2 separate regions of the Homo sapiens genome follow, and region 1 is reported to be linked to region 2. Evidence: microRNA targets listed by miRTarBase, many of them from high-throughput screens and not tested one by one. Region 2 holds a microRNA gene; the other region holds the end of a gene's coding sequence.

The links. Region 2 holds the annotated microRNA hsa-miR-200b-5p (CAUCUUACUGGGCAGCAUUGGA, at 3,171-3,192, opposite strand). A microRNA usually pairs through its seed, bases 2 to 8, with sites in the 3' UTR of a target mRNA and lowers its output. Matches are read on the target gene's strand: a 7mer-m8 pairs with bases 2 to 8, a 7mer-A1 pairs with bases 2 to 7 and ends in A, and an 8mer does both.
Region 1: miRTarBase lists TMT1A as a target of hsa-miR-200b-5p. Seed matches in the 3' UTR shown: 7mer-A1 at 3,781-3,787.

The regions. Positions count from the first base shown.
Region 1 is chr12:50,928,827-50,935,826 of GRCh38, reverse strand. It overlaps TMT1A (thiol methyltransferase 1A), which reads right to left. Exons shown (of 2, transcript NM_014033.4): 2 at 3,319-5,913. The coding sequence ends at 5,677. It also overlaps a transcript of HIGD1C not described here. Among named protein-coding and RNA genes, the nearest start is that of TMT1A, 7.3 kb to the right of the region's middle. RefSeq lists an enhancer at 1,707-2,001.
Region 2 is chr1:1,163,054-1,170,315 of GRCh38, reverse strand. It overlaps MIR200B (microRNA 200b), which reads right to left and starts at 3,212; the gene lies at 3,118-3,212. MIR200BHG (MIR200B, MIR200A and MIR429 host gene) reads right to left here. Exons shown (of 2, transcript XR_007065348.1): 1 at 7,058-7,262; 2 at 1-6,681. It overlaps MIR200A (microRNA 200a), which reads right to left and starts at 2,453; the gene lies at 2,364-2,453. MIR429 (microRNA 429) reads right to left here and starts at 1,311; the gene lies at 1,229-1,311.

The DNA.
Region 1 (7,000 bases), not on the chromosome of region 2:
CTATCATGCTTTTTACTTTTAAGAATGTTAAATTCTGGGGCTGGGTGTGGTGGCTAATGCCTGTAATCCCAGAACTTTGGAAGGCTGAGGAGGGAGGATCACTTAAGCCTAGGTGTTTGAGACCAGCCTGGGCAACACGGTGAGACCCTATCTCTACTAAAAATAAAAAAATTAACCAGGTGTGCTGGTGCATGCCTGTGGTCCCAGCTACTTAGGAGCCTGAGGCAGGATGATCACTTGGGCCTGGGAGATTGAAGCTGCAGTGAGCCATGATCACACCACCTCATTACAGCCTGGGCCACAGAGGGAGACCGTGTCTCAAAAAACAACAAAACAAAAAACGGTAAATTCTGAATGGTAATTTTCCTAGTTCACATATATGTTACCATGTAGTTCTCTGCAGGTTCCCAAGATGGTTTCCTTTAGAAACAAAATAATACCTTGCACATTGCTGGTTCATTATTTACTTTGCCCTTTGTTCAGGTGACCTCTGCTCCGTTTCTCTGGCACTGGGATTAACCAGTGGCTCCACAGTTCAACAGGGAATTCTTTTTATTTTTTAATGTAGCCTAATGCTTCTGGTTTTAAATATTGAGAGAGTTAAAGTGATACTGAACAGTTTGCCTTTTTGCTTTTGTTGGTACTGGTTTGCTATGATTCATCAGACTTTTAATTACTTTAACAGATAAACAAGAATTTCAGTTATGTTAAGTTCTGTGTTTTCTAAACCAAGACGAAAGGGGAAGGCTTATGGTACGATCAAGAGTACAAAAGGAACTATTAGGCAATGTCTGCTTTACTTTCTATTCAAGTTTGAACTATGTAGGAATTCAGATGAAACAATTTGAATATTAGAACACTTGGGAATAAAAAATGTTTCAGAATATAAGACATTTTAATGTACCTTTGTGTGTGTGTGTGTGTGTCAGCCATTAAAATAAGCATTTGGCTCATTGTCCCAGGGTCTTAACAAGATTTAGGAAGAAACTGATGGAAATAGTAACCATCCTAGAATCTGCCCTTGAGGCTCTGGTGCCCAGCCCTGTCTGGTTTCTTTCATTTCCTTGAATATAGTGTGTTTCCTCCTTTCACTTGGCTGTGGCACGAGCTATTCTAGTTGACTGAAATATTCTTTTTTCATTCTTTGGAATTCAGCTCAGATGTTACTTCCTCAAGAAAGCCTCAGAGCTTCTCCTCTTGGATAGGTCAGATTACATTCGCTGGGCACCCTGAGCTTCTTCCTCATCTATAGAAAACATTTATCATCATTGTATGCTCCACGCAGGCAGGGATATGTCTAGTTATTCAGGGCTCTAAGCCAGGCACTAAGAGCAGAGCACACAGTAGACACTCAATAAATATCTGTTGAATGAAGTCAACCTATATTAAGTGCCAAGTGCATTGCTTCATTTACTCCTCAGCATAACCTTTTAGGTAGATACCCCCATTTACAGATGAAAAAACAGATAACTTGCTCAAGGTCACAGACTCAACCAATGACACAACCAGGACTTGACCATGTCACTTTGATGCCAAAGCCAGTGTTTCAATTTGTCTTTTACTTTCTTTGTTGCAAGCAGTTATCCCACTGAAAATCCAGTGTTCTAAGCATTGTACTATATGATCTCCCATAGGAAGACAGACAGGGTCTGATCCAAATCCGGTGAAATCCAGCAATGGGTTTATAATGTATATTTGTTATGTGCCTTCCTAGCATCCATTGCAAATTCAACCCAATGACCACAACCAAGGAGCATTTAGCAAGGGGATTTTATTACTTGCAACAAGTAAGGAGAATGCCAGGGCTGTATCTCCCAGAGCAGTATCTCCCAGAGCTGGGGGCTTGGTCAGGTTTTGTAAGTATAGGGTAATGAGGCATGATCTGATTGGATCTTGCAATGAGGTGATGCCGGGAGGCATGATCTGACTGGATCCTGCCATGGGGTGATACCACAGCTTGATCTGATCGGTCATGGATCCTCCCATGTGTCTGCTTCTTAATTCAGTCCCCATCCTTGGACTGAGCACTTAGCTTAGGTTCCCCCTGTGGTTGCAGGCTTGGTTCATCTGGGTGTGCTCAGGGCACATGACCTGAGGGTCCATTGGCAACTGAAAAACAACTCACAACTTTGTTACATAAAGGTTAAATCAGATTGGTCTGGTATGGCCACAAAAAGTAGGCTTGCTCTTTCTAACTGGGCTTGTGCCCTGGAAGCATGAAGGTCAGAGCCATTTCTACCAACTTGCTACCTAATAGAGCAGAGGGGAGGACAGACATGACCCTAGAGATTGTCTGGCTCCTGATAACATTATCTGAGCCCTGTTCAGGCTGTGCCTGAGGCTTTCTGCCTGTATGATTTTCACTAATTTGAGTTGATAGTCCTTTTTCTGCTTAAGTCTGTTTGGATTGGGATTCTGTCACTTGGAATCAAAGGATTCCTAACCAATATAGGACCTAAAAGACATTGGACATGTTTTGCCTTTTTTTCTTTCTCCCTTTTGCACAGGCTGAAGTCATTTCCTCAGGCTCTTAAAATGATTATAAATATGTGTTCTCTGGATTCAAGGAGGAAAGCAGTAAAAGAAGGTGTTATGGCAGCAATGATTATCAAAGGAGATTTTGTGGTTTGGGGAGTCAGGGCTTCTAAGACTTGCTCAGTAACTTGTGGAATGACTGTAAAAAACTTCATTTATTTATTTCTCTACACCTCAGTTTTCTCTGAAAAGTGACAATAATATTTGCCACACCACTTAGACAAGAGGGAATTGACAAGACTGTGCCTAGGACTTTGTACTTTGGTATTATCTTTCAGTGTAATGACATTTCATCATTTCAACCTGTGGCTTTTCCTATTTCTCAATCACTAGACTGACCAATAGTGAGATGGTTGGATTAAGGAGGTTCCAATTCTGGGGAGATGACAGAGGAAGGAGATTCATGTTCCAGAGCTTAGGAAGCAGTAGGTGTGCATTCGACCTCACTGCATCAATAACTTTTCACGTTCAAGAGATAGTTAAAATAGTAAAAGCTTCCTTTCTTTCTGCTCTGTGGATTTCACAAATGGGATCGTTAGACTTGAACTTTTTTGCTTTTTTAAAGTAGCCAAACATGATCACATGATGGACTTGAACTTTTCAAAACCCATTCTGATACTTCTAGGATTGCTTTGTGTAAAATCTATTGGCTGTGTTTATAGTTACCTGGCTGTAGAAAGAAAAATTTACATGTTTAAATAGCTAAAATTTCCACAATGAAGGAATAAGCCTCCCAGAGACATTAAGAAAAAGGAAACCAAGCCAGCAAAGATATAAACCATATTTCTGTTCCTAACACAAATGTGAATTTATTGGTTGATTTGATATTTAAAATAGTACTTTTACAAAATCATCTCAGAAAATATACTACATTTATTAAAATTCCTACAAACCATTGCAGAAAATATTAAACCCTCTAACCAACCTAACACTCGCTTTCAGAGGCACTTGTGATGATTTTCACAGCTTCCATAGTTGCAAAGAACAAAGAAATCATCTTCCAACAGGGGTGGAATTAGATAAGAATAATCCAAAAAATATTTATTTCTTTACAGACTCACAGATTGCTTGATGTTTAGGGGCTCTTACCTAGGATACCTAATTATTCAAGGTTTTCCTAATTTAGTAGACTTTTTCATTGCCTACAATCTACAATATTCAGCAAAGTATTAAGGAAAATGAACCCAAGAACCTTAACCACCTCAAATAGTTTTATGGATATACTAAACTGTCAAGTACAATCTTTATCTTAAGACTTGAGAACTGGAATGCAGGAAAACAAACTTTGGTGGAATACTGGAATAAAAGACATAAAGCTGGGCAGAACTAGGTGTGGCAACCTTGTATGTTAATTCTGAAAGCCAGACCAGTGACGCTAAGAATAACAAATAGATTCAGATTTGTTTTTCAGAAACTTGAGCTATTTCGGCCAGGTGCACTGTCTCACACCTGTAATCCCAACAATTTAGGAGGTCAAGGTGGGAGAATCACTTGAGCCCAGGAGTTCAAGACCGGCCTAGGCAACACAGTGAGACCCTGTCTCCCTGTCTCTACTTCTTTTTTTTTTTTTTTTTTTTTTTGAGACGGAGTCTTGCTCTTGTCACCCAGGCTAGAGTACAATGGCATGATCTCGGTTCACTGCAACCTTCGCCTTCTGGGTTCAAGAGATTCTCCTGCCTCAGCCTTCCAAGTACCTGGGATTACAGGCACCCACCACCACGCCTGGCTAATTTTTTTTTTTTTTTGTATCTTTAGTAGGGTTTTGCCATGTTGGCCAGGCTGGTCTTTAACTCCTACCTCGTGATCCACCCGCCTCGGCCTCCCAAAGTGCTAGGATTACAGGCGTGAGCCACCACGCCCAGCCCCCTGTCTCTTTTTTTAAAACACAATTTAAAAGCAGAAAGAAAAAATCTGTGCTGTTTAGACTCAGATTCTTAATTAGCTAGTATTTCTTAATTCAATCAATAAATTATTAAGACCTTTTCACTGCTCCCTTTTTAAAGTCTTCTTTGGAGTGATTTAAGTGCTTCTTATTACCAAGCTCTCAAAGAGAAGATAAAATTAAAATCTGATGGGTAACCATTTAAATAAGACAACTGGGGTAACCCATTTCTCCAGGACCCCTCTCTGCAACAGAGAGCTATTCTCTTTCTTTGGCCTAGTAAACCTCTGCTCTTAACCTTAAAAAAAAAAAAAAAAAAGCAATTGGAAAAAATTTCAAGTCAATGAATAAAATAAGATTTGGGGATAATGGTAGATGCTAATTATGAAAGTCGACTGTTTCCTTTGAAGGGGGAGTTCAAAGCTGTTTTTTTGATGTGAATTCTTTGGGAGACAATAGAAAATGGCTAAATAGGATATAACAGAAACTTTTAAGGATGGAATTCAACTTTACCTAAAAAAGGTTTCAGGCCAGGCATGGTGGCTGACGTCTGTAATCACAGCACTTTGGGAGGCCGAGGCAGGCAGATCACCTGAGGTCAGGAATTTGAGACCAGACTGACCAACGTGGGGAAACACCATCTCTACTAAAAGTACAAAATTAGCCGGCGTGGTGACGCATGCCTGTAATACCAGCTACTCAGGAGGCTGAGGCAGGTGAATCACTTGAACCCGGGAGGTGGAGGTTGTGGTAAGCTGAGATCACAGCATTGCACTCCAGCCTGGGCAACAAGAGCGAAAACTCCGTCTCAAAACAAAACAAAAAAACCTTAAGCTGGGTGCGGTTGCTCACGCCTGTCATCCCAGCACTTTGGGAGGCTGAGGTGGGTGGATTGCCTGAGATCAGGAGTTCAAGACCAGCCTGGCCAACGTAGTGAAACCCTGTCTCAACTAAAAATACAAATTAGCTGGGCATGGTGGTGGGCACCTGTAATCCCAGCTACTAGGGAGGCTGAGGCAGAAGAATCGCTTAAACCCGCGAGGTGGAGGTTGCAGTGAGCGGAGATCACGTCATTGCACTCCAGCCTGGGCAACAAGAGCAAAACTCTTTCTTCCCGCCAAAAAAAAAAAAAAAACCAACAACAAACCAAAAAAACCGCCCCCCAAAAAAAAGGTTTCTCTTCTCCCACTTAGCATTTTAAATGTAAAACTGAAGCTTTAAATTCTTTGAGCCATTCAGCTCTTAACTGCCAGCTCACACTATTTCACAGCATATCCATAGATATGAGGGCGCACCAACTCCCAGGACAGTGGGGCCTGGATGTGCTGCAGCTTCAGCTTAGAGAAGCTGGCCCGCTCCAGGGCCTTCCAGCTCTCTCTGGTCAGGTTGCACCCATCAAACAGAAGGTGCCAGGCAGGATCCAGGACTTGTTGCCAGAAGTAATTCCAAGTCGAACACTCAGCTGCCACATGCTCCATGAAATAGAAAGCCCCTCCCTGAGAAAGAAAGAAAAAAAAAAACATTTCAAGGATTTTTTCATTTCTGCTTTTTTAATTTATTTTTTGAAAATTGTTCTCTGGCACTGCCTTGCAAACCTGTGAGAGAACCGTAGAGTTCTGAGCAGGAGGGTCACTCCACACTAAGCACACCCTTGAGACTGAATAACCATGTTTTAAATTTTTGTGCCATTTTCACAAATATGTACGTGATATGATTAATGAAAATTCTGATTCATCTAAAATCATTACTGAATTCAAGGTAACATTTTGTCATTAGGTATTTTATTCAGTCAGTGGATGCTAAATGTAAATTACTCTTTGTAGGAATTAGCAACTGCTGCTTTCATTGAGGAGTTTTATAAATGTTGATCAAGTACAGGCACAATAGATGTTATTACATGTTATGTGTGGGGACATCTTCAGAAGTTTTCTACATATCTACCTCTGAGGGGAGTAAGGAGCAAGGGACCAGACAGTCACCTCACAAAATTGTGGTAACTGCACCACTCTTCTTGGCCTCCTCTAGTTATCCTAGTCTTGGCTCCTCAGGCAGAGTTTAGAGAGAGAATTCAGTTTAGTGATGGAGTTTCCCCAAATTATATGGGTCAGTGTAAGACCTATGTTACGAATAGAAAAATTGGAATTTCCTGATTTATTTATTCATTTATTATTTCTTGAGACAGGGCCTGGCTCTGTCACCCAGGATGGAATGCAGTGGCACAGTCTCAGCTCACTGCAACCTCTGCCTCCTGGGCTCAAGCAATCCTACTGCCTCAGCCCCCCAAGTAGCTGGGACAACAGGTGCACACCACTACACCCAGCTAATTTTTTTTTTTATAGAGACAGAGTTTCGCCGCATTGCCCAGGCTGGTCTCGAACTCCTGAGCTCAAGTGATCCTCCTGTCTAGGCCTCCCAAAGTGCTGGGATTACAGGCGTGAGCTACCGTGCCCGGCCCTGATTTTAAAAAAAATCTTCATAGGATAGGGCAGCATAAAGGAGGAGAGGCAGGTTTGGGGAGGTCAGTGTTGCCCTCTGGTTTACATATGTTAAGAGGTGCCTCTGAGCAATCCAGGAGACTGTTGA
Region 2 (7,262 bases):
CTATACAAAGACTTTTTTCTGTTTTGTTCCCGGTGCTTATGGAGAGGAGGAGGAGGAGGAGAAACCGCACAGGGAGGCTCTGGGTACGGCCCCGCCAGCCCCAGCAGGGTCCTTCCTGTCACACCCCGTGCAACGCAGCAGGCGCTGTGGAGAGTGAGCCCCACTGCAGTGTGGGGCGCAACTTCATCCGAGGGGTGCTTGGAGGGACTGGCCAGACGGGCACAGCGGTGAGGAGGTGCTGGGATGGGGAAGGTCCCCGAGCTCCGGGCGGTGTTGGATGAGCTCAGGCTCACAGGTGTGGCCCTGCCTGGCCCGAGCTCTCCAGGTGTGTCCAAACCTTGTGTTATATGCACCTTGCAGTCCAGGGCTCACCCGTGCGGTCTGGTGAGGTGGACGCCACATTCTGGGGGTGGCACTCCAAGTTCTTCCCCACACACGTCGCTCAGGCGGCAGCAGCATGGGGGTGGTTTCAGCTGGCCCTGCGGGGGACTGCCCCATCTCCCCAGGGAGGAAAGAGGGTCTGGAGATAGCCCCGGGTGGGGGAGGTCAACCTGCAGATCCCGGCTTGGGGACAGCTCCAGATGACACCTCGTGAGCCGCCTGGGGTGGAGGGGCCCCCAGTGCAGGGCTGCGTGGCCCCAAGCACCTGCCTTCCCTATCCCATGGTCTTGCAGCTGGGCACCGGCCCCGCCCGCCTCAGCCCCAGAGATGGGCCCTGGAGGGAGAGTGTGGTCTGCATCCCACGGCTGGCCCCTGGAGGAGGAGGGCCAGGGCTGGCCCCGGGAACCTCCCAGAGGTCTCTGCGTCCTGCTGCCTGGCCGCTGAGACGCTGTGACATTGTCCCTGCTGGGCATTTGTGCTCCTCCGTGCCCTGGGCTCAGGCACTTTGGGGGGCCCAGCTGCTTCTGTCTCAGCCTCCCCAGGTGGCGAGGGGGCTGGGGCTGTGGGGTGGGGCTCCGGGTATCTGTGACTGTGACCCCAGGGGCCAGGCTGATAGCACGGGGTCCACAGCATCTGCCCGGGGACTACAGCTCGAGGGCCCCAGGAGGCCGGGTGGGCACAGGCCATGGCGAGGGTGGGGCACAAGAGCCCCAGACCCCGGCGGCTTTGCACTGATGGGCTGCGGATGGGCACAGGCCATAGTGAGGGGGGCATGAGAGCCCCAGACCGGGCGGCTTTGCACTGATGAGCTGCAGGGCAGGCAGCTCTCTCCTCTAACGGTGATCAGGCAGCGGATGGACGGTTTTACCAGACAGTATTAGACAGAGGGCCAGGTCTAACCATGTCTGGTAAGACGCCCATCGGCCGGCGGTGGTGTGGGTGGCCTCCGGGTCCTGGGCTGGTGTCTGCGGGGCCTGTGAAGGGAAGGCCCCGGGGGCGGCTCCTGCCACCTCCTGCAGCTGCCCTGATCCCTCCTGGGTCTGCAGAACGAGCCCCCGAGGCACTTCCCTGACAGCCCCCATCCCAGCACCTGGTCCCAGCCCAGCCTGGCTGTGTGGGGGTACCCGGGAGCCACCTGGTCACCCAGGCCCTGCTCTTGGCAAAGGTTCCCTGCAGCCCCTCGCTGGCTTCCTGAAGCTCGGTCGGGTTAATGAGTAACAGTGAAGGGCAGCCTCTCCCCGGTGGCTGCCCCCTCCCCAGGCTGGGGCCTTGTGTGGGGGTGCGGTCCCAGGCGCCCTGGTTGCAGATGGAAAAGATGAAACAATGGGTCATCCTGGCCTGGTGGGTTTTGGACAAAGTTCCTGTTCTTGTTGACTGGGGGAAGGAATGAGACCCCTTGTCCCTCAGAGGGCAAGCGCAGAGCGTCCCCGCTCCCCTGCATGGTGGGGCTCGGGAATCTGAACCCACCTTGTCCTTCCTGCGCCCCCAGCAGACCCTCCACGGAGCCCGGACCACGTGAGAGAGGCCACTGTTGCTCTTCCCTCTCCAGCCCTGGCATCCCAGCCCTATGGCCTTTCCTGGAGCCAGGTCACCCTAAAACCCAGCCTGGGAGGTTGGGTGGGGGAGGCACAGCGGCTCCGGGAGGGGGAGCAGGATGCCCTCCAGGCCACCTGTGGAGGCACCAAGGGGTCCTCAAGGTGTCAGACCCAGCCTGGGCGTGAGTGACCCCGGGGGCACCCCCGGCAGAGGCCGGCCCCTCCCCTGGGGGCTGGACTTCGGAGCTGACACAGGCCCTCTGCCGCCCGCTCAGCCCTCCGCCCTCACCCGTCTGCTGGCCCCGCTCGGCCCTCCGCCCTCACCCGTCTGCTGGCCCCGCTCGGCCCTCCGCCCTCACCCGTCTGCTGGCCCCGCTCGGCCCTCCGCCCCAGCCCATCCCTGGAGTAGGAGCTCCGGATGTGCCTCGGTGGTGTCCCCGGCGAGCGGCGGGTCACCTTTGAACATCGTTACCAGACAGTGTTAGAGTCAAGCTGGGAAATCCAGCACTGTCCGGTAAGATGCTCACAGGGGCCCGGGAGGGACGTGGGGTCCCGCCAGGCAGGCAGGGGCTGCTGTGGAAGCCCAGGGAAGAACCGGAGCGGTGAGCAGCCAGGGGTGGTGCCGGGACCGGACAGGGCTGGCGGAGAGGGGCTTGGGGGCCCTGAGACTGCACACAGGCCCACCCTCCCTGCTTCCTCCAGGGCAAGGGGACCCTGGGGCTGCTGACCCGGGACCAAGGCGGGGGCACTGGTCTGCTCGGTGGCCGGCCCACCCTGTCCGGCAGGAGGGAAGATGGCTGTGGCCAAGCTGGGTGGGGCGGCTTCCTCTGGGTTCCACGTGGCTCCCGGTTGGGCCTTGCCCTCCTGAGCCCTCTGTTGGGTCCTGCTCGGCCCGCACCTGCTGGGTGTGACAGCAGCTCCCGCCCAGGCGCTGTGGGCAGGGCCCGGACACCTGAGCGTCCTAATCCCCAGATCACTGTGGGGCGCCCTGGGTGCAGCTGCAGGAGGCCTTGCATTCCGGGGTCTCTGAGATGCTGGTGGGGGGCGCCCCAGCCCCCTTCCGAAGGTCACGTCCCCCCGTCACTCTCCCCAGAGCCATCTGGCCCGGACGGGGTGGGGTCCGGTGAGCGGGCTGTGTGGGAGGGGAGTGTGGGGCTCGGCGGGAGGCCCTGGGGGCCGGGACGGGGTCGGCCGGTCGCTGCGTGCAGGGCTCCGCCGTCATCATTACCAGGCAGTATTAGAGACCTGACTCCATCCAATGCTGCCCAGTAAGATGGCCACGGCTGCCCGAGCTGGGTCCGGGGGCCGCCCGGCTGAGGGTTGCATGGGACTCGCTGGGAAGCTCAGTAGCTGGGGGGCCTCGTCCTCCTGGGGCACTGAGGACAGCATCGCCGGAGGGCAGGGGCCCGGGTGAGCCCCACCCGCCAGCCCTGCCGAGTCCAGCAGCCACCAGCTTTGGGTCCTGGGGTGGGCACCTGGGGGGCCGAAGTGTCCTGGCCAGACGGCCGAGGACTAGGTCGGAGTGGGGCTGACACGGGCCCTCTGCCCGCCCCGCTCGGCCCTCTGCCCCCACCCCTCTGCGGGGGACCTTCCCTCTGGGTGGTCCCATAGGAAGGCCTGGACAGCAGCCCCAGCCCCCCGGGCCCCACGTGCTGCCTTGTCTGAGGCAGGGGACAAGGGCCTCTGTCTCCAGGATGGTGTTCCAGGAGCTGCTTCCCTGCCCAGCCCCTTCTCTTCTCAAAGGCCCGGTGTCTGCGAGGCTCTCGAGACAGAACGGTCCCCGCCACCTGGAGACCCCTCTCCCATGCTGCCCCGCTCACTGCACAGCGTCTGAGGGCAGGGGGTGCAGGCGGGGGTGGGGGTGGGGGTGTGGGTGGGGGTGCGGGCGGGGCAGGCTCCTGACCCTGCCCAGCCGTCCCTGCGGTTTGTGTGTCTGCTGGTCTGGGGTCTGACCCAGGCACAGAGGCAGACCGGCCACAAACACAGACACAGGCAGTCAAGCCTCAGACGCCGCGAGGGCTGAGCCGCCTCTGCAGGGGGGCAGGAGGAAGTGGGCAGCCCTGTGGCCCCTCCTTGCTCAGGGCCCTGCCTGGAGCCCAGAGACCCTAGGCTTCTACTCCAGGCACACTCAGGACCCGAGGGAGGTTCAGCCCTCAGGCCAGACCAAGGCTCCCCGCCCGCTGGACACGCCGTCCTTCCTGTCCTCCTTCCCACCCTTTCTCTGCAACCACCTGGTGCCAACTGGGCCCAGAGAGCTGGCCAGAGCCACTCTTCAAGTTTTCTGGCACCTTCCACCCACAGAGGCTGTAGGTGGGGCGCAGGCCCTGTGCCGATTCCCCTGTCTGCCCGCCGACCACAACAAAGGTCGTGTCCGCCCGCCCCCGCCTGCTGCCGGGTCCACCCGGTTCCAGTCTCCTCCTCCAAAGGCCACGTCTCCGAGGTCCTGACCCAGCTTCCCTCACGCCTGGACCCTCTCCGGAGACCCCACACCAGGTCCCCTGCCCTGGCCCCAGCCTGTCAGGCTCCAGGGCACCCGGCTTTCCCTTTCCATCACCTCACAGGCCTTCGCCACCAATGCCATCAAATCCCATCAAATCAGTGCTTCAGGAACACAATTTCACCTGTTTTCTGAGCTAAAGGAAACTAAGACTTCCCGTTCAGAGCAGAGTTGAATTTCAGCTCCATTCCTGGCTGCCAGGTCACGTGGGGAGGGCAGCAGGTGCCCGGCACTCGTCCCTTGCAGCTGGGGCCAAACACAGTTCCCAGCCCACCCGGCGGACGGGCCGGCCTCCCACTGCCAGGTTCAGGGCCCGGGGCCAGTGTCCCCAGGCCCTTGGCCACCCAGGGCCAGCCTTCTCAGGAACCCCACAGGGCCAGAGCTGGCCTGGCCACCCCAGGCTCATCAGTCATTGCGTTCTCACCCGGGAGGCTGAGGGGCACACGGCAGAGGCTGGGACCCAGGGACAGACCCGTGTGGCAGGCAGGTGGGAGAAGCCTCCTTCCTAAGTTCCAGGGCAGGATTCCCAGGCGCCTCCTGAGTGCAGAAGCTGTAAAGCCAACGAGCAGCTAGCAGGAGAGGCCGACCCTGGCTCCAGGGCTGGGTGGGGAGATGGTGGCCTGGGCCGGCAGGCTCAGCTGGGGGACCAAGGATTTCGCAGGGCCTTGTGCCTGGCACAGGGGTGAGGGGCAAGGAGTCGGGTGGGCAGGCGGCCGAGTCTTACCGTGGCCACAGGTCAAGAAATGAAAAGCGAAAACGGACCTTCCCTGTTTTCCGAGAGCCCCACGCGGCGCTTTCTTGTCAACCGTCGCCGGGAAGTGGAGCTAGCGTGGCGGTGCCGGTTGAGGTGTTGGGTTAATCATCACCGCGGGGCCAGACTCAGCTTGGGAAAATCCAGGAGTGAGTCAGGAGGCCCAGAGCCGCCCCAGCAAGGGGTTCTCTGCGGAGCACACTCCCCGTGGAGGCGCCCCTCGGCGCACCTGGCCGCCCTGCCCGCCTGCCTGGCCGGGTCCCACCTGCACAGGCTGGGGTGGGGTGGGAGCGCCCGGCGAGGAATGTGATCCCGGCGTGAAAACCTAACTTGTTGGTTAACCTGCCCGACGGGCTTAATCAATGGTGCGGCCTCGAGAACAAAGTGTGAAATCCAACCCTCCCCGACCGCGGGAGCCGAGCCGGGAGTCAGAGGCTGCCGGGGGGTGGGGTGCGGAGCTCGGCCTGGCGGGCACTCAGGTTCTTCCCTCTGCGTCGCCGGAGCTACGCGTCTGGGAGGCAAAGCCGCCATTTCACCCACACGGCGGGCGTGGATTTGCAGCCCTCGCAGGCCGGCTGTGAGCACGGCCCGTGTGTCCGGGCCACGTCCACCCGCCCCACAGAGAACACACCAGCTCCTCCAGGGATCCAGGGGTGCGCGACCTCCTCGGCCCATCTCATCTTCCTCTAGATACTAAAAAATGTTCTGACAAACTCGTTTCGCAAATAAGTATTTGCAAATTACCAAAATGTCTGAAAAGAACCGCAAACTGCATCCGCATTTTCACAAATGCAAACCTTAATTTTGCCAAATTCAATGTGCTGCCAACCATGCTTTTAAACATTTCATCTGGGTTACTAGAAAAACAAAACCAAACCACGTCTTTCCCCAGACACTCAGCGTAAACGGGGCCTGAGACGCTCCCGGGGGGAGGCCTGAGACGCTCCCGGGGGGTTAATTAAAGCATCGGCTCTTCACGCCCTAAGAATTTTGTTCATCAAGAACAATGAACCTTACCTCCCGCCACCATGATCAATCAGTTCCCAAACTTCAAGAAAGCCAGTGATCCGGGCTGTAAAACCGTGTTCAGGTGCCCCCGCGGCAAGTTCAAGGCTGGGCCTCGGTGGGTCGGACCTTGTTCCCGGCTGCGGCCACCGTACTGAGCCGTTTCACATTTAAGTAAAAAACCTCACGAGAGACGTTGCCCCCACCCCAGTCATAGCGCGGGGCCTGGGAACCGGCTCCAGCTTCTCCGGGCTGAGCCCCACCTGTACCAGACCAGCCACGACCCCAGGCACCAACCTCACCGCCCATGGGCTCGGCCGGCCTCTGACCAGAGGGTGCTGAAACCAAGCCCTTCCCACCGCAGACTCCAGAGCCCAAGGGAGACGCGGTCATCCTCGCACCCGGCCAAACCCTTCTACGCACCCACCTCTGAGGCGACAGCTTCCCGTCTCCGCACAAAGTGCCTCAGGACGGCGGTGGCTGCTTCTGGAGAGAACTTTCTAGAAGGCCTGCTGTCAGGTAGGCGGCAAGAACGTGACCCCTCTCGGAGCCTGCCCTCTGCCCAGGCCCTGCCCTGAGGGCACCCCATGCCTGGAGCCCACACACTGTGCCCGTGCCCGGAAGACGCAGCCCGTGGGTCCAAGATGGCTCCACACCCGAAACCCAGCCGCATCTGCGCAGGGGCCCACCTTTCCCTGGGGGGGGGAAGGACCCGCTCCAGCCTGTGTCTGCAGTGACCGGAGCTCCCCTGGACGCTGGCCAGGCTGGCGACAGCCCATCTGTCACCTGCGCCCCTGCCCCACGTCGGCCACGGCGGGGGCTGGCGAGGGCCCCCCTGCAGGGAGCCGCCTCCCCCTGCGCCTCAGCCTCCCCGCTGCCCGCCCTTACCTGCCCCGACAGGTTCCACTGCTGCGGCCGCGGCCCAGGAGCCGGGTTGAGGCTGCTCCCGCCCCGACCCTGCAGCCAGCGCCTCCCCTGTGCCAGGCCCGGGTGGGTGTGAACCGGCTTCGGAAGGAATGGGGGGCACCTGAGCCCGTCCGTCCCGGTCCACGGAGCTGGGTGCTCTGCCTCAGCCAGGGTCAGGCCTCAGGGC